4 linked regions of the Homo sapiens genome follow. The protein of the gene in region 4 interacts with the protein of the main gene of each other region in a pairwise test. Each region holds a gene or a part of one and is shown on either strand. Other genes may lie near its edges.

What was found.
Region 1: the proteins of TFCP2 (region 4) and PIMREG interact in binary tests that used the Homo sapiens proteins (3 or more experiments, as listed by UniProt).
Region 2: the proteins of TFCP2 (region 4) and DNAJC5B interact in binary tests that used the Homo sapiens proteins (3 or more experiments, as listed by UniProt).
Region 3: the proteins of TFCP2 (region 4) and TSPAN12 interact in binary tests that used the Homo sapiens proteins (3 or more experiments, as listed by UniProt).

The regions. Positions count from the first base shown.
Region 1 is NC_000017.11:6,447,455-6,452,023, reverse strand, and holds the end of PIMREG (protein PIMREG), read right to left. Parts: intron 4,562-4,569; coding exon 4,266-4,561; intron 3,002-4,265; exon of another isoform or gene 2,713-3,001; coding exon 2,617-2,712; intron 2,321-2,616; coding exon of another isoform or gene 2,263-2,320; exon of another isoform or gene 1,997-2,262; coding exon 1,966-1,996; 3' UTR 1,952-1,965; exon of another isoform or gene 1,663-1,951; coding exon of another isoform or gene 1,602-1,662; 3' UTR 555-1,601; downstream 1-554. UniProt on the Homo sapiens protein: During mitosis, may play a role in the control of metaphase-to-anaphase transition.
Region 2 is NC_000008.11:66,024,553-66,031,552, reverse strand, and holds part of DNAJC5B (dnaJ homolog subfamily C member 5B), read right to left. Parts: intron 1-7,000.
Region 3 is NC_000007.14:120,786,820-120,792,198, forward strand, and holds the end of TSPAN12 (tetraspanin-12), read right to left. Parts: intron 2,079-5,379; coding exon 1,773-2,078; 3' UTR 501-1,772; downstream 1-500. UniProt on the Homo sapiens protein: Regulator of cell surface receptor signal transduction. Plays a central role in retinal vascularization by regulating norrin (NDP) signal transduction.
Region 4 is NC_000012.12:51,107,136-51,114,189, forward strand, and holds part of TFCP2 (alpha-globin transcription factor CP2), read right to left. Parts: intron 3,849-7,054; coding exon 3,742-3,848; intron 2,139-3,741; coding exon 1,986-2,138; intron 212-1,985; coding exon 101-211; intron 1-100.

The sequences.
Region 1 (4,569 bases), on a different chromosome or scaffold from region 4:
CTGTGCCCTGGAGTCTTTCATGAGGCACGTGGGTCCTCTGCATCCTCACTCTCCCCCCTAGCCCAGGTGCAGCCCCGGGAGGGGTGCCCTGACCCCGCCTTAAACAACCAACTTTCCCACCGAATCCCATCGGCGGGCGGGGGGGGGGGGTTTGGGTGCCAAGTGCCCTGGAAACCTATTGTCTTTTGGCTCAGCCAAAAGAAACATTCCCTCCTTCCTTTCCTTCCGGGCTTGGGGGAAACCTTCGTAAAAATCATAGTTAGGGTTAAGTCCAAGCAGTGAGGCCTGACCTGGGCTCTGCTCTCCTTGTTGAGACACTAACAGGCAGTTGGGAGGAAAATCTGCATTTGACTCCACCCTCTTTGGGGCAAAGGAGAAACAGGTGACCCGAGGGGGGGCAGGCCAGAGGAGGGCGACTCGTGCACAGGGACCCCCACCCTTGGACCCCGCTGTCCTTTTCTAGTTGTTTACTTGGTGGTGGCAGCCAGTCTGACCTTGTCTGTGGTCTGACTGTTCCTAAGTGTGTAACTTTCAGTATTATCTGTGACAGATGGTTCTGTGGTGAAAAAGGTTTATTATATTCCTTATGGCTGCCTTGTACAAAATCCGTTAGAAACGCTAATGTAAGATATCAGATTTCTAACAAGACAAAAACAGCATTATGGAGTTAAAAGATTTTTACAACTGGGTCTTGATTTTGATGTGAGCTGGTTTTTAGCTCTCAAATGTTGTCACTTAAATAAAAACCTTCTTTGCCTTTACAATGTGTTTTGGTCTGAACTAAGTTGAGAAACCTTTCCCTTTCTACATGTTCTCCCTGGGGTGGGATTGGGGGCAGACTGGCTCGGAGCAGAGGTGGATGAGGGCCAGACCCCAAACCACAAATTACAAATCTATAGCCCAGAGTGGTGTGGGAGGGCGGGGGAGGTTGGAGGTTGCCGGTGAAAGGGAACAGATGTCAAATGCAAATAGTCTTTATTATGAGAAAGCAGTGTTATCTAGGAAAGTCACACGCTGGTTTCTTTCTAATAAAATGACAAAGCAGGTTTCTTAAATAATTTACAAAGGGCAGAAATTGCTCTTGAACAGGGCTACCCCTCCTGGCACATCCACAGTGCTCTGCACTGAGCATATAAATAGGTACCCGTGAGCCCAGGGTCGTAAGCCTGGAAATATCTCCTATGCCTTCCTCCGAGTCCCTGGTAGGGAAAGGAGGGATGAGAGTGGGGCCCTCAAGAGCCTTGGCACCAGAAACACAGTGGGTGAGTGACTCTGCGGATGACTCCCCAAAAACCAGGCACCCGGGTACAGAGCTAAGAGCTCTCAAATATCTGATGCTAGCACTTCATGTTATAGATGAGGCAAATAGAAGGCTCAAGGTCAAGTGTACGATGAGTTTCTAAGCTCAAGAGTCCCCTAGGAAAGCAGAAGGAACAATTCTCCCCCTCTGCAAGGTCTCCCCAAGACACTCTCAGGCTATGGCAGGCAGTCACTGATGGGTCCAGATGTGGCTGGAGCAGGGGGCTCTGGGCCCCTTGTTAGGTGCTTGTTAGCAGTGGCCCAGGGGTACTGACGACTCCCGGGGGTTTTTTCCAGGAAGCTCACGGGGAAGCATAGACATCCTTGAGTATGAAGCCTTGGCGGTCAGACAGGGCTTGTTTCCTTCAAGACAGAGCTGCCTTTTTCACTGTGCTCAAGGTAGGAGAAGTAGGGATGCCTTTCCCTGCTCACTGCGGGGTGGGGGGTGCTGGAAGGTGGCTGTAGCTACTTGGGGCCCCCAGCGTGCTGTTAATGACGGGGTCAGTGAGGTTAGCAGCTCTGGCTTCAAGCGGCAAGTAGGTACTACCTACTCTGCTGTGCCCATCAGCTCTGTGGGCTTTTTCTTTAACTTGCTCATGCATGAGATGGAGGAGAAGGACAGTGAGAAAGACTCTTGGGAGGTGGGCATTACCTGCAGGCACTTCCTCAGTCATGAATGAGAGAGACGATGTCACCACTAGAGAGAAGGGGAGGGATTGATGCCACTGGGTGTGGTGGGCTCTGAGAGGGCCCTCCCAGCCTGAGCTACACAAGATCAGACCCGGAAATGTGGTAGGAATATGGCCCCTCAACACATAGAGCTGGCAGGGCCCAGCCTTAGAGCCCATCATGGCCATTATACAAGTGGAATGGGGAAACAGCCCCAAGTTAGGGGAGGTCCACAACCGAGGCCCTGCCCCCAGGATGGGGCCATGAGCAGACAGACCAGGAACTCCATAGCAGTCAGGTTGCTTTTCCCAATTCCATAGGCAGGCAGGGCACAGACGAGCCACGGAGAGTTCTGGAGGAAGGGCAGGTTTTTCAGGAACCAGCCACACGTGAGGTTCCAAGTGATGGACAAACATGGGGTCCCAAGGCCCAGAAGACCACACACATTCAGGCTACATCCTTTACCATCACCCCAGTCCAGGATTTTGTCCTTTCTCATGTTTGAGATGAGGGAGACTGAGGCCCAGAGAGGGGCAGAGACTGGCCAGGGTCACACAGCAGGTCAGAGCAGAACCAACGCCTGCCTACAAAGATGGCTGGAGGGGCCCTCCCGGCCCCTTCACTTTGAAGCATGGGATGCCAACTCACCTCTCTTCCGCCATAATGGCTTCATCTAGCTCTTGGGACAGCTTCTGGAGATGCTGAATTCCCGCCCCCACAGGCTCTAGGTCACTGTCAGACTCGCTGCATGAAAGAAAAAGCCACACCAGTGACTAGTTGGAAACTCCCGGCAGGAGACCCTTGCAACCCGGTACCGGGGTGTGGTCTGTGGGCCCAGATGACCCTGGCGGGCTGGGCTTCACTCCAGACCCTCACTCCAGGAGGTGACCTCAGAGCGACAAACAGAGAGAAGATCAAGATCCACGAGGCCAAGGTCACGGGCAAGTGATTTTGCAGCTTCCCCACTTGGAAACTGAGCCTCAGCTCTCCAGGTGGCTTCAAAACTTGCTTCTGGGCTCACTAGGAGGCTTGGGTGAGTGTGATTGTGTCAGAACTAAACTCAGCTCTTCCTTTACGGACAGAGAAACTAAGGTCCTAAAGGATTTTCTCAGGTCCCCTGCTGGCTCTGGACGCGGAACCGGGTCAGAATACAGATGTGGAGAGTATTTTTGAAGTGTACACAAGCCTTATTTTAGCTTACAGGTTTGCAAAGAGCCACCTGGTCACTTACATGCATCCTGGTGACTACCTGCCACAACACAGGTGCAGCGGCTAGGCAGCCTTCCCTGAGAGCTCCGAGATGGGACCAGGAAACTGCCAGGGACTGCCGATTGGGATGAGCTTCACCCCCTGCCCTGAGCCAGGCCACTTTCTGGGCCTGTCTGAGAACTAGAAGATTCTGCAAGGCAGGCCAGCTTGATCGGTGGGGCAGAACATCCAGATGATCTGGACCCCAGCCTTTACTCCTCTATTTCTTACAGGATGACCCTCAGGCTAATCACCAAACCCCTCCGGACCTCCGTTTCCTTACCTGTCAAATGGGACAAACAGAGCCTGCCTTAATTACAGCTCAAAGTTCCTATTAGGCTAAAGAAAGATGCTAGCCCTCAAAGAAATCTGGGGAAAAATTCAACAGCCCTAAGCTACTATGCAGCCTTAACTAACACACTCCATTTCCCCCTAGAACTCAGCCGGAAAGTTGAAATACAATCCTTAGGAATCTAGTTGTTGTTTTGTTTTCTTTCTCTCTCTCTTTTTTTTTTTTTTTTTTTTGAGACAGGGTCTGGCTCTGTGGCCCTGGCTGGAGTGCAGTGGCGCGATCTCAGCTCAATGCAACTTCCACCTCCCGAGTTCAAGCGATTCTCCTGCCTCAACCTCCCAAGGAGCTGGGATTACAGGCGTGCACCACCACGCCCAGCCAATTTTGTATTTTTAGTAGAGATGAGGTTTCACCATGTTGGCCAGACTGGTCTCCAACTCCTGACCTCAGGTGATCCACCCGCCTCGGCCTCCCAAAGTGCTGGGATTACAGGTGTGAGCCACTGCGCCCAGCCTGTTTTCTCATTTTCTGATGAGCAAATACATGCACTGGATATCTGCTAAAGCAGGACACACATTTAACAGTAAGAATAATAATAATACAATATGACGCTGCTCAGGGTGCCCCTGGCTCCAGGTAGCCACAGGGGGTGCCAAGAAACCCCTAGGGCCCAGTTGGTGTCTGGGAGGTCAGACAGCAGGGATTGTGCCCAGGTTAAAAGGCCACCAGCCCCGGGGTGAAGCACTATCCCACTTGCCTGGGAGAGCAGAGGGGCTCTGTTGAGGAGTAGGGGCTCCGGAAGGCAGCCTCCCGCCTTGATCGCCGTAATGGGTGGGCATGTGAGCCCATCCGGACAGAGAGGCGGTGATGCTCCTTCTCCCAGGGGTCTGCGGCTGAGTGGGCAGGGGCGGCTCCAGACAGCCGGGTGCTCTTCTGGCTCAGGCTGTGAGTTGGGGATCCACTGCCCTTCTGTGCTCCTCTCTTCCGCCTCCTGGCCTTCACCTGGGTCTCCACCAGCCACTTGGTGCCACTTTGGCAGGACTCCTGGATTCTCTGGAACA
Region 2 (7,000 bases), on a different chromosome or scaffold from region 4:
TATACAAAATGCATACATTACACACATATATCCATCTCTCCTACTGGTGCTGCTTCTCTGAAGAACCCTGACTAATACAGTAGGTGCTTAAAAAAAATAGGTTGCTTTTAATGATTGCTAATTCTGTTATGTCAAAACTAAGCAAGAAATGATGTCTAAATGTAAAGCTGATTGAAATTATGTTGTTTAAGAGGTAGGAGGAAATGCCAATAATGACCTAAGTAGCACTTATTATTTGTATGCCATTCAGATGGTATATTTCATCTTCTAAAATGAGCATTTATAATAACATATGTGTGTATCAATTGTGGCAATATCATTACCTTAAACTCTGGGAAAGACATTTTTAAATTTATATTGATAACTACCTTCTATTTGTATAGTTCTTTAAAATTAAAGAATCATATTAATTGTACTATGATTTTACCATTCCCTAGTTATGATGAAATCACTGATATGCAAACCTGACTGTCTGCTAAAGTGGCTGAAGAAAGTGCTCAATGATTGCTTCTGCAACTTATAGAGGTGGTGAGGGGCTCTCACGAGCATAAGCCCAGGAGAAAGCCATCACTATGAGATTCCAGACACAAGGGAGGACTGTGAGCAGCCTCAAGATGTGAATAAGGAAAGATTCATGCCTGTAATTTCAGCACTTTGGGAGGACGAGGTAGGCAGATCTCTTGAGGTCAGGAGTTCAAGACCAGCCTGGCCAACATGGTGAAACCCCATCTCTATGAAAAATACAAAAATTAGCAGGGCATGGTGGTGGGCACCTGTAATCTCAGCTACTCGGGAGGCTGAGGCACAAGAAACGCTAGAACCTGGGAGGCAGAGGTTGCAGTGAGCTGAGATCTTGCCACTGCAATCCAGCCTGAGTGACAGAGCAAGACACTGTCTCAGAAAAAAGAAAAGAAAAAAAAAGAACATGCCACAAAAGCACATACTGCAGGTGGAGGAGGAAGAGAAGGAGATCTCCCCACTCTAGCAGGTGGGCTTACCAGTAGAGGAAGGGGGCAGTGGTGGCAGGGGAAGGACACAGCAAGTCCATTGTGACCCATGATTCTGGAGATGAACTACTTTCTGACAACATGAGTATGCCTTGAAATGATTCATAAGAAAAGATGCAGTCAGAAGAAATGGTATGTTTAGTTCCTTTAAGGTTCTAGGTAGGAATAAAGGACATAGGTCTCCAGGGGATTTTAATCTTTTGTTGTACAGGCCATGACTTTGAAGAGAAAAGAAGATGTAGGAAATGGACATTGGCCCAGGAAGGTGTCAAAGGACACAGTTGATTTTCTGGTCATGACTCTGAGCTACCAGACATTAAATAGCCATCAAGGAGCACCATGAAGACTACGAAGTCTATCAAATAACCCGGCTGGCAGAAGACTCGCCTCCTGATGAAGACTTTCAACTGAAATCTGAGTTGGGGAGGAAGACAGGCTCCATTACATTTACACTATGAAGGGCAATAAAAGATAAAATGCCCAATATTTTTTAGAAAACATAACAGGAAGACTACCAGGAACAGTATTTATAGGCACAGTTGTTTATTCACCAAGGTTTATTGAATAACTAGTTGCCCTGGAGACTGTAACAAATGAATGAGATCCAGGCCCCATATCAACTGGAAGTGTCTTCTCCAAAGCAAATGTCTGAGGGGCTCTCGACCACCCCCACCCTCACTGTCAAAAGTTTCAGCTCTGAGAAGGGAGAGAGATCCAGTCTCTTTAGAGGGCATCAGCAGGAAGTGATACTGTGGCATGGATAGTTTCATTTCTGGGCCATGCCAGAAACCCAGGTGTCTCCTTTCACTCACCCTCTCCATTTAAACCAGGCCGATCAATTAACCAGGCCTAATCACATCTCCTTTCTAAAGCTCTAAAGTCCACTCTCTTCCTCTGTTTCTTGAATAGAGGTAGTGAACTTGGTCACTACCCTTGACCAAGCTTATTATCTCCTGCCAGCCTCCTAACTGACAGTCCTTTCTCCAGTCTTTCTCTGGTCCCCATATACTACATCCCTTTCAAATGCAAATGTTATCTCATCACTGCCCTGCTGATAACTCTTCAAACTTGCCCATTGATCTTTAGCTAAAAGTCCAGCTTCTTAGCAGGGCCAGCCCCACGGACTTGCCCCTGCCTCTTCCTCCAGTGCCACTTCTTCCCAATGCCATCCTGTCCACTCAAACCCAGTTTCTACTAACTACTATACACTGTTTAGCTCCATGAATACACCATTGTCTCTGTCCTCTGAGTCTTTACACATGCTGTTCCCTGTCTCAAAACATTCTTCTACTCCCTTTGCCCTGGTCTCCCAATCCCACCTGGCTCACTCCTTCAGCGCAAAGGGTCAAATTTTTTAAATGTCAGGAGAATGTCACAAATGATGAAGGTAGGAAGCAGAGAGAGGAAAGCAGTGGTCCATGTGAAGCAGGAATCCTGGAGGAGGCCGGATTAGGAGTTCAACTATCAGAAAAGCTGAAGAAATTGCATGAGCAAGACCATGGAGGCAAGAAAAGTATTGGGCAAGCTGGAAAATTGAAGGCAGACAGATCTACCTGGTGCATAAGAGGTGGGGAAGAATGGATAAATGGGTAGCCAAGGGGAGAGGCTTGGTCCAGTGAAGCTAGAGAAGGTGAGAGGCCTTGAAAACCAAGCAAAGGAGTTTAGTCCTCGTTTTATAAACAACGGGAAAAACTTGAAACTGGGGAGTGCCGGTTTCTATTTTAGAAAGGCGTGGCCAACGAGTGCAGAGAAATGAGGTTGGAGAGATGAGTGATCTTAGAGGAAGATGAGGAGATGAGGGCCCAGACCAGGGTGGCAGCAGGAAGAACTGGCTGAGGTGATGGGTTCGGGAAAGATGTGGAGATCCAACCCCCTAGGCTCAATGTTCAATGACCGAATGCAGCAGTAGAGAGTGACTCGGGGATCAGAGGGGACCTGAGATCCTCGCCAGAGAAACTGGGAATATGGTGAGGCCCGTTGGCTGAGGTGGGAATCACAAAGGGGGAACAGGTTTGCCAAAGATAATGAATTAGTTTTGGAACATGTTGACTTCAGGGTGTAGGCTCTAGAAGCCCTCGTGCCTAATTAAAATCAGACACAGCCCTGGTTTCAGCATGCAGGGCGGTTCACAGAAACCACCTGTTAGAGTTCATTTTATTCTTCCTGGTGTCCTTGTGTTTCCATGACTCCTCTTTTTCATATCCCAATGAAGCAAAGTGAATTATTTGCTTTGCACGCCAAGAATGAGTTGTCAAAGCGCAGGTAGAGTGGACATGAGCGCCGGTGAGTAAGAGAAGAGCGGTTGTGCCGGGGCCAAAATTTTCACTAGGAAATTGTTTTTCTCCCTAAGTTTGTGTCAATCAGTCATAGTCTGTTTCTCTTCCTTTCAAGATTCCTCCCAAGTCCCAGTGCTGACCTGCCCTCATGAGCAACCTGAACACTCCAGACAACACTGCTTCTTCGCTCTGAGCCCCTGGGGCACTTTGAAGTTCACAGTGCGCACATTTTTCACATAGTTTTGTAGTTTCCTCTTTGCTTTTGAACTCTTTGCAGGTGTACATCTTGTCTCAACTAAATTCTTAACTCTTAAAGAGCCCAACTTATGTCAAACATTTTATTTTGCTGTTGTCACAGTGCCTAGTACAGTCCCAGGTGCATATTAAGTTTTCAAAAATACAAACGGGATTGAAACTGACATTGAATTCATTTGGCATAGAAAGGAGTGTGGAAAACAACCTCCTTGAAAGGACATAGTATGAGAGGAGATAAGCTTGATGCGGGGAGGGAGATAGCGTCAGTTCCTACCATGCAGAGGAACATATCCTAACATTAAAAAAAGGCTTTCCCTCTCGTAATAATAATGATTTTGCATTCTAAATATACTTGAAAGGACGAAAATACTGGTCTTCTAGTTGCCAAGTAAGTTGTCTTCTCAACTGGCTAAAACGTCTGTTTTCCTGAGACCACCTTTTGTGACAACAATATTGGTAATATAAAAATGTGGAACTTTCATTTATAGTGAATTACATGCCATAGTACTCCACACCACTTAAATGGCAAGACTGAGAGTGAATCTTTCACTTCCTTTTGGTTAGAGCTCCATTTGTGTGGCCATCATGATGTTTGGGTAACTTAAAAGGACAGTATTCATGACTCAGCTCGTAACATTTTCCCCAGGCAGAAGAGACGGGACAACCCCAAGTATTATGGTGGCCAGATTGTGTACTTGTCATATTGGAGGAAGATGTCTATGGAAGAGGTGAGGAGAGGAGGCAGGAAGCTGGTTTTGTAAATCAATGAATCTCAAAGATTTCCGGGGCTGTCCTGCCACCAGTGCCTGGCACTCTACCATCCACATCACATTTAATATGGATCCCTGCTCCCCAGACAGCAGGATACCCTTTACCCTTACAGGGCATTGGAATAATGGGACCACAACTTGTAGCTTTCAGTAGGAGACACAATTAAGAGGAGGAGGACGAGGAGTGGCTTGAAAGGAGGATGAGGGGATCAGGTGATGGGTATCCTAAAAGCCCAAACTTGACCACTACACAATCTATGCATTTTTAAAAATTGCACTTGTACCCCATATATTTATACAAATACAATAAAAATTAAAGCACATTGGGTTCTACTCTCTGGAGCAGCATGAAGCATGCCTCCGGAGGTCAGCAAAGATGAGGGGAAAAGACACTAACTAGAGTGCTTGCTTCACAGCTGTGCCAAGGACTTGACTCCCCATGCATTTTAGAGCATAACCTTCCCCCTTCTGAGGTTCCCATGGGATAGCAGGGTAAACAGCAGGAGAGCTCCTTCTCAGCCCTGGTGGCACCAACGCCCCTTGGCTCTGGGTCACATTCCTCCACAGACTTCACAGGCCTCAGGTTACAAAGGCCCTGTTGCACAATTCTTGGGAGAGTGGGCATGGGGGCTGGGCTGGGATGACAGGCAGTGTCCTGCGCGTGTCGGAGATCCAGTGTGGCCGCCTGCCAAGGCGCCTCAGGGGACGGCAGCAAGAGGAGACTCTGCTCTCTCAGGATCTTCAGAGAGGTAGCTTCCTTTTGCTTTTTTTCCTTCCAAGCCTCTTAAATAAAACTTGTCAAGGCTGCATCTTCTCCGGTAATTCAAGAGAAAACATTTCAAAAGTTTGCTTGGCATACCTGTGTTTCATTTTACTGGAGAGATTTGAAACTTCAAAACCGCAAAAACCCCATCGTCTCAGCCCAAAATCTCCTTAAGCTGATAAGCAACTTCAGCAAAGTCTCAGGATACAAAATCAATGTACAAAAATCACAAGCATTCTTATACACCAACAACAGACAAACAGAGAGCCAAATCATGAGTGAACTCCCATTCACAATTGCTTCAAAGAGAATAAAATACCTAGGAATCCAACTTATAAGGGATGTGAAGGACCTCTTCAAGGAGAACTACAAACCACTGCTCAAGGAAATAAAAGAGGACACAAACAAATGGAAGAACATTCCATGCTCATGGGTAGGAAGAATCAATATCGTGAAAATGGCCATACTGCCCAAGGTAATTTACAGATTCAATGCCATCCCCATCAAGCTACCAATGACTTTCTTCACAGCATTGGAAAAAACTAAAGTTCATATGGAACCAAAAAAGAGCCCGCATCGCCAAGTCAATCCTAAGCCAAAAGAACAAAGCTGGAGGCATCACACTACCTGACTTCAAACTATACTACAAGGCTACAGTAACCAAAACAGCATGGTACTGGTACCAAAACAGAGATATAGATCAATGGAACAGAACAGAGCCCTCAGAAATAATGCCGCATATCTACAACTATCTGATCTTTGACAAACCTGAGAAAAACAAGCAATGGGGAAAGGATTCCTTATTTAATAAATGGTGCTGGGAAAACTGGCTAGCCATATGTAGAAAGCTGAAACTGGATCCCTTCCTTACACCTTATACAAAAATCAATTCAAGATGGATTAAAGATTTAAACGTTAGACCTAAAACCATAAAAACCCTAGAAGAAAACCTAGGCATTACCATTCAGGACATAGGCGTGGGCAAGGACTTCATGTCCAAAACACCAAAAGCAATGGCAACAAAAGCCAAAATTGACAAATGGGATCTAATTAAACTAAAGAGCTTCTGCACAGCAAAAGAAACTACCATCAGAGTGAACAGGCAACCTACAACATGGGAGAAAATTTTCGCAACCTACTCATCTGACAAAGGGCTAATATCCAGAATCTACAATGAACTCAAACAAATTTACAAGAAAAAAACAAACAACCCCATCAAAAAGTGGGCGAAGGACATGAACAGACACTTCTCAAAAGAAGACATTTATGCAGCCAAAAAACACATGAAGAAATGCTCATCATCACTGGCCATCAGAGAAATGCAAATCAAAACCACTATGAGATATCATCTCACACCAGTTAGAATGGCAATCATTAAAAAGTCAGGAAACAACAGGTGCTGGAGAGGATGTGGAGAAATAGGAACACTTTTACACTGTTGGTGGGACTGTAAACTAGTTCAACCATTGTGGAAGTCAGTGTGGCGATTCCTCAGGGATCTAGAACTAGAAATACCATTTGACCCAGCCATCCCATTACTGGGTATATACCCAAAGGACTATAAATCATGCTGCTATAAAGACACATGCACACGTATGTTTATTGAGGCACTATTCACAATAGCAAAGACTTGGAACCAACCCAAATGTCCAACAATGATAGACTGGATTAAGAAAATGTGGCACATATACACCATGGAATACTATGCAGCCATAAAAAATGATGAGTTCATGTCCTTTGTAGGGACATGGATGAAATTGGAAACCATCATTCTCAGTAAACTATCGCAAGAACAAAAAACCAAACACCGCATATTCTCACTCATAGGTGGGAATTGAACAATGAGATCACATGGACACAGGAAGGGGAATATCACACTCTGGGGACTGTGGTGGGGTCGGGGGAGGGGGGAGGGATAGCATTGGGAGA
Region 3 (5,379 bases), on a different chromosome or scaffold from region 4:
AGGTGAAATTACAGGGATTTGGGGTATTGAGGAAGTTATTAAAAGGGATGCTTTTGGCTCTGATTGAACAAGTAATGTACTCAGTTTTCATTAAAATCTATGGAAGATTTTAAACATGGCAGTCAATTTCAAGGATTATATTCCTTAACTCATTTGAAGAGAATTTGAAATTAACTAAGAGACTCATAGTCTCTTAAAAATTAATAAGTTATAAAACTGTGATATGCAAACATTGAAAAGATGAACACAAATGGGCATATTTTTATATTATCTCAAACAAGTATATTATTTAACATTTAGGTAAAAAGCAAAAGTGAAAAATGGGCATCTTTTTGACTCTTCTCAGTGAAAATACATATTCTTATAGGTCCATTCCGGAGTTTGGAAATCAATATTAATACTTTATGCAATCATTCTTTCTCATGTTTTTCTCCCCTTGACAATCTTCTCAAGTGGCATAAGTGCTTGTAATGTATTAAAAAGTAGGCAGAGACAAATCATTACTCTCTAGAAAATATTTATTGACACATTTTAATTTTCTTTCCATATTCTGAGAAATAAACAAAATACACAAAATACAGTAAAATGCACTTTTCCCATTTCAAATAAATATACTATACTCTTGTAAAAAAATTTAATAATCTGTGTAATTTGCCACAGTATATTAATCAGTGAAATAAAACAAAGAATCTCTAAATTGTCACATGTTTTAATGATTCTCACAAGCATTTTTCTGGAGAAAAAGAACACTATTTTCTGTAGAATTTATATTGACTTGGAGACTATTGCTTCTTGTTTGGAGAAGGCAAAGATAAGCTTTTTAAAAAGTGTTTAGTGTCAAAAAGAGTCTTCATTTGGGAGAAAAACAGCATACAAGTCCTTTCTGAATCAACTAAGTTATGTGCAAATTTTCTTATTAATACTTCCTAAAGACCAGACTACATTCTGAATAATGATTCCTATGTATCACACTGGTAATTTTCAAAATTAGTGGTTAAGTATTTAAATAACAGTTATATGTGTAATATAAGCCCAGGACAGAATAGTAAAGCTTTATTAACAGGAAAGGCTAAAAATAATGATGCTATACAGGACAAATTTTCCTTTTCATAATGGTTATTCTTAACATTATCAGAACTGAAATCGACTGAATTATACAGATTTAACACAGACTTATATACAAAAAATCCCTGATCAGCTTAAGACAATGTGTTAGCTTGCTCTTTTAAGTGGTAAGAATATTTTAGTAACCAGCAAAAATCACATTTAGGTAGTCACCAATATTGAAAGTTTTCTGATATATAATTTATTTAGCATCAGAAGAATAGATCGCTGAGTAATAAAAGTTATTAGTATTTTCTAACTTCCTATGTTAGCATTTAATTAGTACTTTATATACTAGTTGGTAGAAGTAAATCAACCTTTACTATGGCTCCAGTCCCACCATATGTGACTCGTTTGCATGGATGCGGAAATGCTAATCAAACCATGCTGCCTCAAAACATAACTGTGTTCAGTAAAAGTCATACACAGGCTACACAGTGGGTATGACATCTGTCTTCAGCATTTTAAGGGCATCAATTATTGTCCAGGTGGTGACTTATGACATGAAACTTTTCCATCCTCATTTTAAAGCATAGAATAGTATATGCTTAGGTGTTATTTTATGGCAACATTTTTATTTCTACATATTTCTGAAACACATAGTATGTACTCAAAAATTCACAAGTCCAGTAAAACAAGTTTGTGGTTTTCTTCTGTGACATTTCTTTTTATAACTCCTCCATCTCAAAGTGTGTATTAAAGCTGTTTGCCATGGATGTGTGTTCAAAGATTCTTGACAGGCTTGGTTTCAACAGTTCTACTGAGGGACATGACAGGTGCTGAGAGTTGTCATTCTTCAAGGACATCATTTGGTCTGTCCCCGGCTCCCTTCTATCATAATACAGAGCCCAGAGCAGAGTAATGGTGAGAATCATGGCCAGGATTTGTGTCACCCCAATGGAGATTCCCAGAAACCTCAGCACCTGCAGTTGTTTGGTTCCTCTCAAAAAGGAATACATTTTCTTCCCACAACCCTGTAAAAGAAATACATGGTCAACATTACTTTAGATATGTTACAGAAGGCCAAAAATAGTTAATGAAAGCAAACAATCTGTATCAGTTAATGAAATCAGACTAACTGGGATCATAAAGTTTAAGACAGTGGTTCTCAGGGAAAGCTGATGAGAAGAAGGAGAGAGGGAGGTGTGTAGCTTTTGAAAAGCCTGTCCAGCTGATTCCAATGAGCCAACCCCTTCTTTTGTCTTTCTCAAAACCTGAAATTGAGGCCCACTGACATAAAACCCAACATCTAAAGCAGGGGTTGACAAACTTGTTTTCTTTTTTTAGAGAGACAGATAGTAAATATTTTGGGCTCTGTGGGCCATATGGTCTCTATGGCAACTACTCATCCCTGCCACTGTCACAAGAAAGCAGCCATAGATGGTAAGTGAATGAATGAATGTGGCTGGGTTTCAGTGAAACTTCAAACACATAAAAAGGCATTAGGCCAGATCTGGCACACAATGTTTACGATTTAATAATACTTAACACCGGTTTGGTAAAGTCGCTTCTCTGGCCGCCTTAACCTATTTGATACAAACACAAGAAATTTGCACAAACACAGACATAGACATACATTCTGTGGGAAACTAACATAGACATCACAAAGACAACTCACCAAAATTTAAGTATTTTACAAAGAGTTCCACTCAAGTATTCTATAAGAGCTCATTCACTCTTAGGTTTATGTGTTGTTTTAATAAGCATCTTTATATGACACAGTGATACAGGAGATAGAAATTATTTAGGCAGATAGTGAGGGTAAAAGAGTCCTCGGTGGAATTTCCCTTTTAACAAAAAGCAGCTCCAAAATCATTAATAGAACTGCCTGAAAAATTGAGCTGTAGACATAGACAAGCAAGCTGGAAGCTTGCACAGGTGAATGCCAGCAGCTGTGCCAACAGAAAAGGGCTACCTGGGGGCCACGTATGTTCAACATGGAGGGTCCATCGTCCCTTGTCTTTGTGTATACAGTAAAGAAACAGGTAATATGGTGCCAGCCAAGTAGAGGACCATCTGCACAATAAAAGATTAGGGTGGGGGGTGGCCAGATTTTCATGCACTATGCGAATGGTACACCTGATCTGACCAATCTTTCGTGCCCTGTGTAAATCAGACTCCGCCTCCTCAAGCTCATCTTTAAAACCTATTGCATTTTGCTGTGGACCGGAAAACCCACTCGGGAACCCTCTCTGCAGGAGAGAGTTCTTCTCTTTCTTGTGCCTATTAAACCTCCACTCTTAACCTCACTCCTTGTGTGTTCGCATCCTTGATTTCCTTGGCCTAAGACAACTAACCTTGGGTATTACCCCAGAGGAACGATGCCACTTCAACGGTATAGTATAATGGTTAAGATCATGAACTGCTATGTCATTTGGGGCAAGTTACTTAATCTCTCTGTGCTTCAGTTTTCTTGTCTAAAAACATAGATGATAATAGTGCTTACCTGTCTGAGATGTTGGGAGGATTAAATGCACAGACACATTTTAACACTTAGAATAGTGCCTCATACATGTTAAGAACCCAGTAGGTACAATCTCTTGTCTGATGTGTCAGTTCACAGATTAGAAAGTAGAAAGATCAAATTAAAAATAGATGGAAAATCTATGATTAGCAGATATTAATGGAAAAGTACGAGGCACAACACTTCATGAAAGAGTATGAAAACACCAGAAGCACAGCATTATGTCACCAGTGAGTACTTCTGCACAGAGCAAGGTGGCTGCTACTGTTTTACAGGACAATGAGATAACTGTCCAAAATGATTACTTGCTCCTGAGACATTAGATCATTAGCTTCCTGATGAAGCAGAGAAATATTTTACATAGTTCGGGAAGAGTCACCTCAAAATTTGTTAAGTTAAAAAGGTTTGGCTTCAGACATCTGGAAAATTAATTTGCATGGCAACTTCATTTAACATCATTACCAAATAATGTGGCACTATTTTCTCACATCTATCTTTGAAGAAATTGATATAAAACAGCCTTGGATCATGTTTAGCTGATTCCTTACCTATGTGCTCGGTACTTAGTACAAAAATGGACTTTTAGTGAATAATTAGCATGAATATATTAATATTTTAGTAATAATAATTATAATAGATTTCAGAATTAGAGGCAAACTGGCTGGGTGTGGGGGCTCATGCCTGTAATCCCAGCACGTTGGGAGGCCAAGGCGGGCAGATCACTTGAGGTTTAGAGTTTGAGACCAGTCTGGCCATCATGGTGAAACACTGTCTCTACTAAAAATACAAAAATTAGCTGGGCATGGTGGTGCATGCCTGAAATCCCAGCTACTCGGGAGGCTGAGACATGAGAATTGCTTGAACCCGGGAGGCAGAGGTTGCAGTGAGCTGAGATCGCCCCACTGGACTCCAGCCTGGGCAACAGAGGGAGACCTTGTCTCAAAAAAAAAAAAGATTTAGAGGTAAACCATTCAAGGATACAAAATTTCAGTTAGGAGGAATAAGTTCAAGAGGTTTACAATACAACGTGGTGACTATAGTTAATAACAATGTATTAGTTATTCAAAAAAGTAAGCCATTCAATAAATATATATGCCGATGATTCAACTCTGTGAAATGCTGTCAGTCAATTACTTGATTTTTACCCTTTCAATAGTCTCTGGGGCTTAAATTGTATCTATATTGGCTTAAGATCTCCTACCTCTTTAGACTAATTCATTTTAAGCTAAGAAACTGTGCCAGAAAAGTAATGTTTCCTTTTCAAATCTGTGAATAAAACAAGGCAGAGGTTGATAATTAAGTACAGTTTATCATGTTTCATATCTTGGCACTGTTTAAAGTCTATTTCAGTTTATCTTAAACAATCACATTTATTTTTAAAATGGTACAGTAAATTCTATCACCTAGGATGGCTGGGGAATGAGACCTATTAATACTGAACACTCTAGAATGGGAGGGGTCCTTGGAAGTCATGAATTCAACTTATTATCTTTTAAAAACATGGCAAAAAAGCACTTGTAGAGTGACATAGCAAAACTGGCATGGGAAGGACCTCCAAAGAATCTCTACTCATATAATCAATGAAAACACTGGTAAAAAACCTGTTAACCTCAATTTTTCTAGAATTCTGGAAATTAACCAAAGTCTTGCGGCAATCTGAGGAGCGTTTATTCACGAAAAGCTGCTGAATCTCTTAGGAACAGCAAGTGCTATGGAATTATCATTTGCCCTATTCCCATCCCTGCTCCCCTCAGCTGACTAGAAAGCCAAGAGCCTGCAATCCTGGTGAGAACTGGCAGCCTAGCCGCCAC
Region 4 (7,054 bases):
TCAAGGCTTAGGAGAAGTAAATTCTGACCAGTTTGGAAGTGATGAATTTTTAAGATTAAAAATTATGAACTGAAATTGTCACCAAAAGAAATCTTTTTACCTCTGTGAGTATGGTTGTCTCATAGGAAGGCTGATATTTCTCCTTTTCATGAGGTGTTCGTTTCTCCATTTTTTCCCTATCCGTTTTTTGCTTTCTGTCTGCACCTTTGGGCTGAAATGAGAAATATTTTGTTTTAAATTCAGGTACTCACCTTTTAACCCAAAATATTGCTTCCAAAAACTTAAATATTCATGTATGAAACAAAATTGTATGTGCAGTGATGTAAAGGCAAGACACATCACTTTAAGTTTGAAAATAGGAAATTTAAATGTTTATATTCGATGGAGTTGAAAAGAATCAGATCTATAGCTACTGACATGGAAAGATCTCTAAAGCACATAGTTCACTGAAAAAAATCAAGTCTCAAAACATTTCTTTCTTTTTTTTTTGAGACGGAGTCTCATCCTGTCACACAAGCTGGAATGCGGTGGCGAGATCTTGGCTCACTGCAACCTCCGCCTCCAGGGTTCAAATTATTCTCCTGCCTCAGCCTCCCCAGTAGCTGGGACTACAGGCGTCCGCCACCACACCCAGCTAATTTTTTATCTTTAGTAGAGACGGGGTTTCACCATTTTGGTCAGGCTGGTCTTAAACTCCTGACCTTGTGATCCGCCCACCTCGGCCTCCCAAAGTGCTGGGATTACAGGCATGAGCCACCGTGCCTAGCCTCAAAACATTTCAAATAGTATAATCCCATTTATGTGTCAAAGAAAATATGTATATAGCTATGTATGTGTGTGTATAAAAGCATAGGAAGGAACTAGAAGAGCTGGGCGCAGTGGCTCATGCCTGTAATCCCAGCACTTTGGGAGGCCGAGGCAGGCGGATTGCCTGAGGTCAGGAGTTCGAGACCAGCCTGGCCAACATGGCGAAACCCTGTCTCTACTAAAAATACAAAAAATTAGCTGGGCATGGTGGTGTGTGCCTGTAGTCCTAGGTGCTGGGGAGGCTGAGGCGTGAGAACAGCTTGAACCCAGGAGACGGAGGTTGCAGTGAGCTGGCACTGCACCACTGCATTCCAGCCTGGGTGACAGAGTGAAACTCCGACTCAAAAAAAAAAAAGAAGAGGGAAGTAGAAGAACACATACGAAATTATGAAATTATGACAGTGGTTTCCTCTGGGAAGAGGTTGTGGAGGGGGTCAGTGTAAGAGTAGTAAAGGGAGAATTTCAGTGTTGCTATGAATACCTCTGTATTATTCAATCTCTTACAATGAGAACATATTTATTCATGTGATAAAAATAAACAGGACCCTGGCTGGGGCACAGTGGCTTACACCTGTAATCCCAGTACTTTGGGAGGCCAAGGAGGGCAGATAACTTAAGCCCGGGAGTTCAAGGCCAGCCTGGGCAACATGGCAAGACCCCCTCTCTATAAAAAATACAAAAATTAGCCCGGTGTGGTGGCACATGCCTGTAGTCCCACTTACTGGGGAAGCTGAGGCAGGAAGATCAATTGAGCCCAGGAGGTTAAACTATGATTGCGTCACTGCACTCCAGCCTGGGTGACAAAATGAAACCCAGTCTCAAAAATAAATAAATAAATAAATAAGACCAAATAAGAAAAGATCAAGTATGAAAATAACCATAACTAGTCAATTTTTGTGAGCTTTACAAGAGCTTGTAACTTCAATAGGCTTTAAGAGCTTTCAATGAGAATCCATGTTCTTGCCTCTAGCCCTCTTTTCCAAGTTCCTATTATCCTACGACCATGTAAATTTCTTTACCAGGCATCTTGGTAATTATTTCAATGACTCTAGCTTAGACTTTTTGCGTGTGTGTGAGTTTTCAAAAAAAGACAAGTTGATTTTCTGACTTGGTAACTAATGTTAAAATAGAATGATAAGGTAAAAGAATCCAAGGGCCAGCACATTGCCCAGGAATACCTTGAAAACTTTGATCTGGCAGCTGGCCGAGTGTAAGTGCTCAGTATATTCCCCGTTTTCATTCTCCTTGAAGGTATCTATTTGTACTCGGAATGGCACCCCCTTTTCTCCACCATGTTTCCTCATAGTGAACTCTGTGCTAATACAGTGCACCTGAAAAGAATACAACAGCAAGGCTTCAGTACCGCTAGCTAGCCAAACCAGTTGGCAGTATTTTTTTAGCAACTATTAACAGCAAAACCTTTACCAGGCATTATGAATACCTACAAAAAACACTTTTCCTCTTTTTGATCTTGAAGAACTTACAATCTGATAGAGGAAATAGAAAAATGCTTTACAAATGCAAACAAAATAAAAGTACAGATCTAATGCTAACAAAAGCTACTGTGAGGAACTAAATTCATTAACTGCTTCAAAGAACACAGAGCTAGCAAAAGAGAAATGATTTATGTTAGTTAAAGTTTCCTCAATTTTAAGGAAGATTGTAGAAAGAGGAGTCACTACCCAGTCTGGGAACATAGTAAATATGAAAGTTCACAGCAATAGTGGAGAAAAAGGTTTGCTTGGCTACTGCATAAAGTCTAAGATTGGTGAATTTTTTTTTTTTTTTTTTTTGAGACTAAGTTTTGCTCTTGTCACCCAGGCTGGAATGCAATGGCACAATCTCGGCTCACCGCAACCTCCACCTCCCCGGTTCAAGCAATTCTCCTGCCTCAGCCTCCCAAATAGCTGGGATTACAGGCACACACCACCACGCCCTGCTAATTTTTGCATTTTTAGTAGAGACAGGTTTTCGCCATGTTGGCCAGGCTGGTCTCGAACTCCTGACCTCAGGTGATCTGCCTGCCTCGGCCTCCCAAAGTGCTGGGATTACAGGTGTGAGCCACGGCACCCAGCCTGGTGAATCTTAATAGAAGAACCTTGTCTGACTGACTACTCCACAAGATTATAGCTGAAAGTCTTAAAATCATATATATAAAGTGTTTACTTAACATAGTGACTATTTCATGTGAAGTATTAATAAACTAGTGGTTACTATAATTACTACAAATAAGGATTTTCAAGGACTCTACCCAAAGAACATAATCAGATACGCAAATCAAATTTTAAGTATAAATATGTTCAAAATAACATCACAGATAATAGTAAAAAATCAGGCCAATCAAGGCCGGGCATGGTGGCTCACACCTATAATCCCAGCACTTTGGGAGGCCAAGGTGGGTGGGTCACCTGAGGTCAGGAGTTCAAGACCAGCCTGGCTAGCATGGCGAAATCCCACCTCTACCAAAAATACAAAAATTAGCCAGGCATGGTGACATGCGCCTCTAGTCCCAGCTACTGGTGAGGCTGAGGCAAGAGAATCGCTTGAACTGGGAGGCAGAGGTTGTAGTGAGCCGAGATTGCACCACTCCACTCCAGATTGGGAGACAAAGCCTAGACACTGTCCCCCCCCAAAAAAATTATGCCAATCTAACTGCCAAATAATTGTTATGTAAATTATGGTACAACCAAGAAATGAAATATTATGCAGCCATTACCAAGCAATTTTGGGAGACACAAATAAATAAACTGGGGTATTAGAAGAGCAATTCAGAAACTCCTCAATGCTCTCAGGCACAGGTTAAAGAGCCTGGGCTTGACAGTCAGGCTAGAACCCTGTAAAGATTTCAAAGTTAACATGTTTTATCCTTTAAGAAATAAACTGATAGTAAGAGAGATACTCTTCAAAACTGGAACCCTATCTGCAACGCCTTACCTGAATAAACACAGATGTCCTCTTTGCAGGGTCCCACAGGAACTCCACTGTATTTAGTTGAGTTGGATTAGCCCTAGGATCGATTATACCCACAGACATCGGGATATCTGAGAAACAAAATGGTAATCATTGAACAATTTTGAGGGCCACTCAGTTTTAAATAAGAAAGCATTGATTCTTATATTACTCAATGTAGCTACCAAGATTTTTGTATATCACATCCTAAATTTCTTTGTTTTTTTTTTTTGTCGTTGTTGTTGTTTTTTATGGAGTCTTGTTCTGTTGCCCAAGCTGGAGTGCAGTGGTAACAGGCCTGGAGTGCAGTGGCACCATCTCAGCTCACTGCAACCTCTGCCTCCTGGGTTCAAACGATCCTCCTGCCTCTGCCTCCTGAGTAGCTGGGATTACAGGCCCGTGCCACCACGCCCGGCTAATTTTTTTGTATCTTTAGTAGAGATGGGGTTTCACCATGTTGGCCATGCTGCTCTCAAACTCCTGACCTCAGGTTATCCACCCACCTTGGCCTCCTAAAGTGCTGGGATTACAGGCTTGAGCCACTGTGCCCAGCCCACACCTTAAATTTCTTTTTTGTCAATGAAAATATTTGATTAGAGTAAAATTGACTTAAGTACTTTGCTTGAGCACCTTTTTTCCTCTTTAAAAAGTTTTTAAAATACGGCAATTAAAAAAATTATTTGGCCAGGCACGGTGGCTCACACCTGTAATCCCAGCACTTTGGGAGCCCAAGGCAGGCGGATCATGATGTCAGGAGTTCGAGACCAGCCTGACCAACATGACGTAACCTCATCTCTACTAAAAATACAAAAATTAGCCGGCCGTGGTGGCCCACACCTGTAATCCCAGCTACTCAGGAGGCTGAAGCAGGAGAATTGCTTGAACCTGGGAGGTGGAGGTTGCAGTGAGCCGGAGATCGAGCCACTGCACTCCAGCCTGGGTGACAAAGCAAGACTTCATCTCAAAAAAAAAAATTATTTTTAGGCCAGGCGTGGTGGCTTACACCTGTTATCCCAGCACTTTGGGAGGCCAAGGTGAGCGGATCACCTGAAGTCAAGAGTTCAAGACCAGCCTGGCCAACATGGCGAAACCCCGTCTCTACTAAAAAATACAAAAATTAGCCAGGCATGGTAGTGGGCATCTGTAATCCCAGCTACCTGAGAGGCTGAGGCAGAGAGAACTGCTTGAACCAGGGAGGCGGAGGTTGCAGTGAGCCAGTATTGCGCCACTGTGCTCCAGCCTGGGTGACAGAGCAAGACTGTCTCGAAAAACAAAAAAATCATTTTTAAATTGAGAAATAATAATTGTACATATTCATGGGCTATATAGTGATGTTTCAATACATATAATGCATAGTGATCAGATCAGGGTAATCAGCATATTCATTGTCTCAAACATCTGTCATTTCTTTGTGTTGGGAATGTTTAGTATCCTCCTTCTAGCTTAAAATATGGCAATTTAAAGGCAGTTTCCTTTTAATTTGTTAAAATCCTATTTAAGGTGGATTAAGTCTACACTATCATGAAAACTGTAATTTATAATCTATTTCAACTACAGTTTGAAAATTAGTTTCATTGCCAAAAGCACATTAAGAGTATTGCTATTGAAGGGGTGCAGCAGAGTGTCTATATGAAGGTAGAAAGCATTATATCATGAATGAAAGTGGGAAAATTTTAACATAAAGATTGATGCAGGCCAAGCGTGGTGGCTCACGCCTGCAATCCCAGTACTTTGGGAGGCCAAGGCGGGTGGATCATTTGAGGTCAGGAGTTCGAGACCAGCCTGGCCAACATGGTGAAAACTTGTCTCTACTACAAATATAAAAATTAGCTGGGCGTGGTTGTGGATGCCTATAATCCCAGCTACTCAGGAGTCTGAGGCATGAGAATGGCTTGAACCCGGGAGACAGAGGTTGCAGTGAGCCGAGATCATGCCATTGTACTCCAGCCTGGATGACAGAGCAAGACTCTGTCTCAAAAAAAAAAAAAAAAAGATGGTTGATGCTGACTTACCAAGTCATCAAATAATCCTATAACAGAGTGACAAATCTTTACTTAAAAGGGAAGCAAGAATTAATGGGTTTGAGTAGAACTTTTCTTTCCATTCCACACAGCAGATATTCAAATAGCATTCCCTGATTTCTCCTATTAATGATCAAACTGGGGAGTTAAGGCCAGGTAATATGTATTATCAGAACTGTGGTATTAACTATACTACTGTTTTGGTATCAATGATTCAAACAATAGAGCATCAAGTGGGTCCCACTCCACAATATTAGTTGTGTTAGATTCATCTTAAGGTCAACTTATCATACAGATATCAGGATCACTGCATGAGAACCAATGTTTTCTCAGGTAAAATTAGTAGCAGTTAAATTTTTCTTAACAACTATGTTTACCAAAAGGAAATTTTAACCAATTAGAAATCAGAGAGGCAGACACCATGAAAAGTGACTGCATGTGTATTTGTGAAGATCTTTCCTTTATACCCTATGACTTAGGAAAAACAAATTCTACTCTGTGTAGCAACGTGGGAAGACACAACTTAACTGCAAACCAAGTGACATAGCTTCTAATACCAGAACTCCCACTTTATAGTGCCTGGTTCTCAGGCACTAGTAAAATGAAGGAACTTTCAGCATGCTGGGGAAAAAAGTCTGCCCCTCTTTACAAACGCAAAACAAAATATCAGATCCTGAGCAGCCAAAACAATCGTGAAATAGAACAAAGTTGGAGTTCTCATGCTTCACGACTTCCAAACTGACTATAAAGCTACACTTAGCAAAATAGTGAGGTATAGGCATAAAGACAGACATTTAAACAAATGGAATAGAATAGACAGCCTACAAATAAGTATTCAAATATATGGTCAAATGAGTTTTGACAAGGGTGCAAGACCATTCAGTGGGGGAAAGAACAGTCTTTTCAACAAACGGTGTGGAGAAAACTGGGTATCCACATGCAAAAGAATGAAGTTGGGCCCTTCTTTCTGTATATGGTTTACCATACAACCTTTTTTGTATATGGTTGTACCATATACAAACACGAACTCAAAATGGACCTGTGACCTGAATATAAGACCTAAAACTATAAAACTCTTAGGAGAAAACATATGGGAAAAGCTTCTTGGCACTGAATTTGGCAATGATTTCTTGGATGTGGCACCAAAAGCACAGGGAATTAAAAAAAATTAGATAAATTGGACCACCTCAATGTAAAACTTTAGTGCATCAAAGGATAGTATCAACACAGTAAAAAAGCAACCCACACAATAACAGAAAAGATTTGCATGTGATATA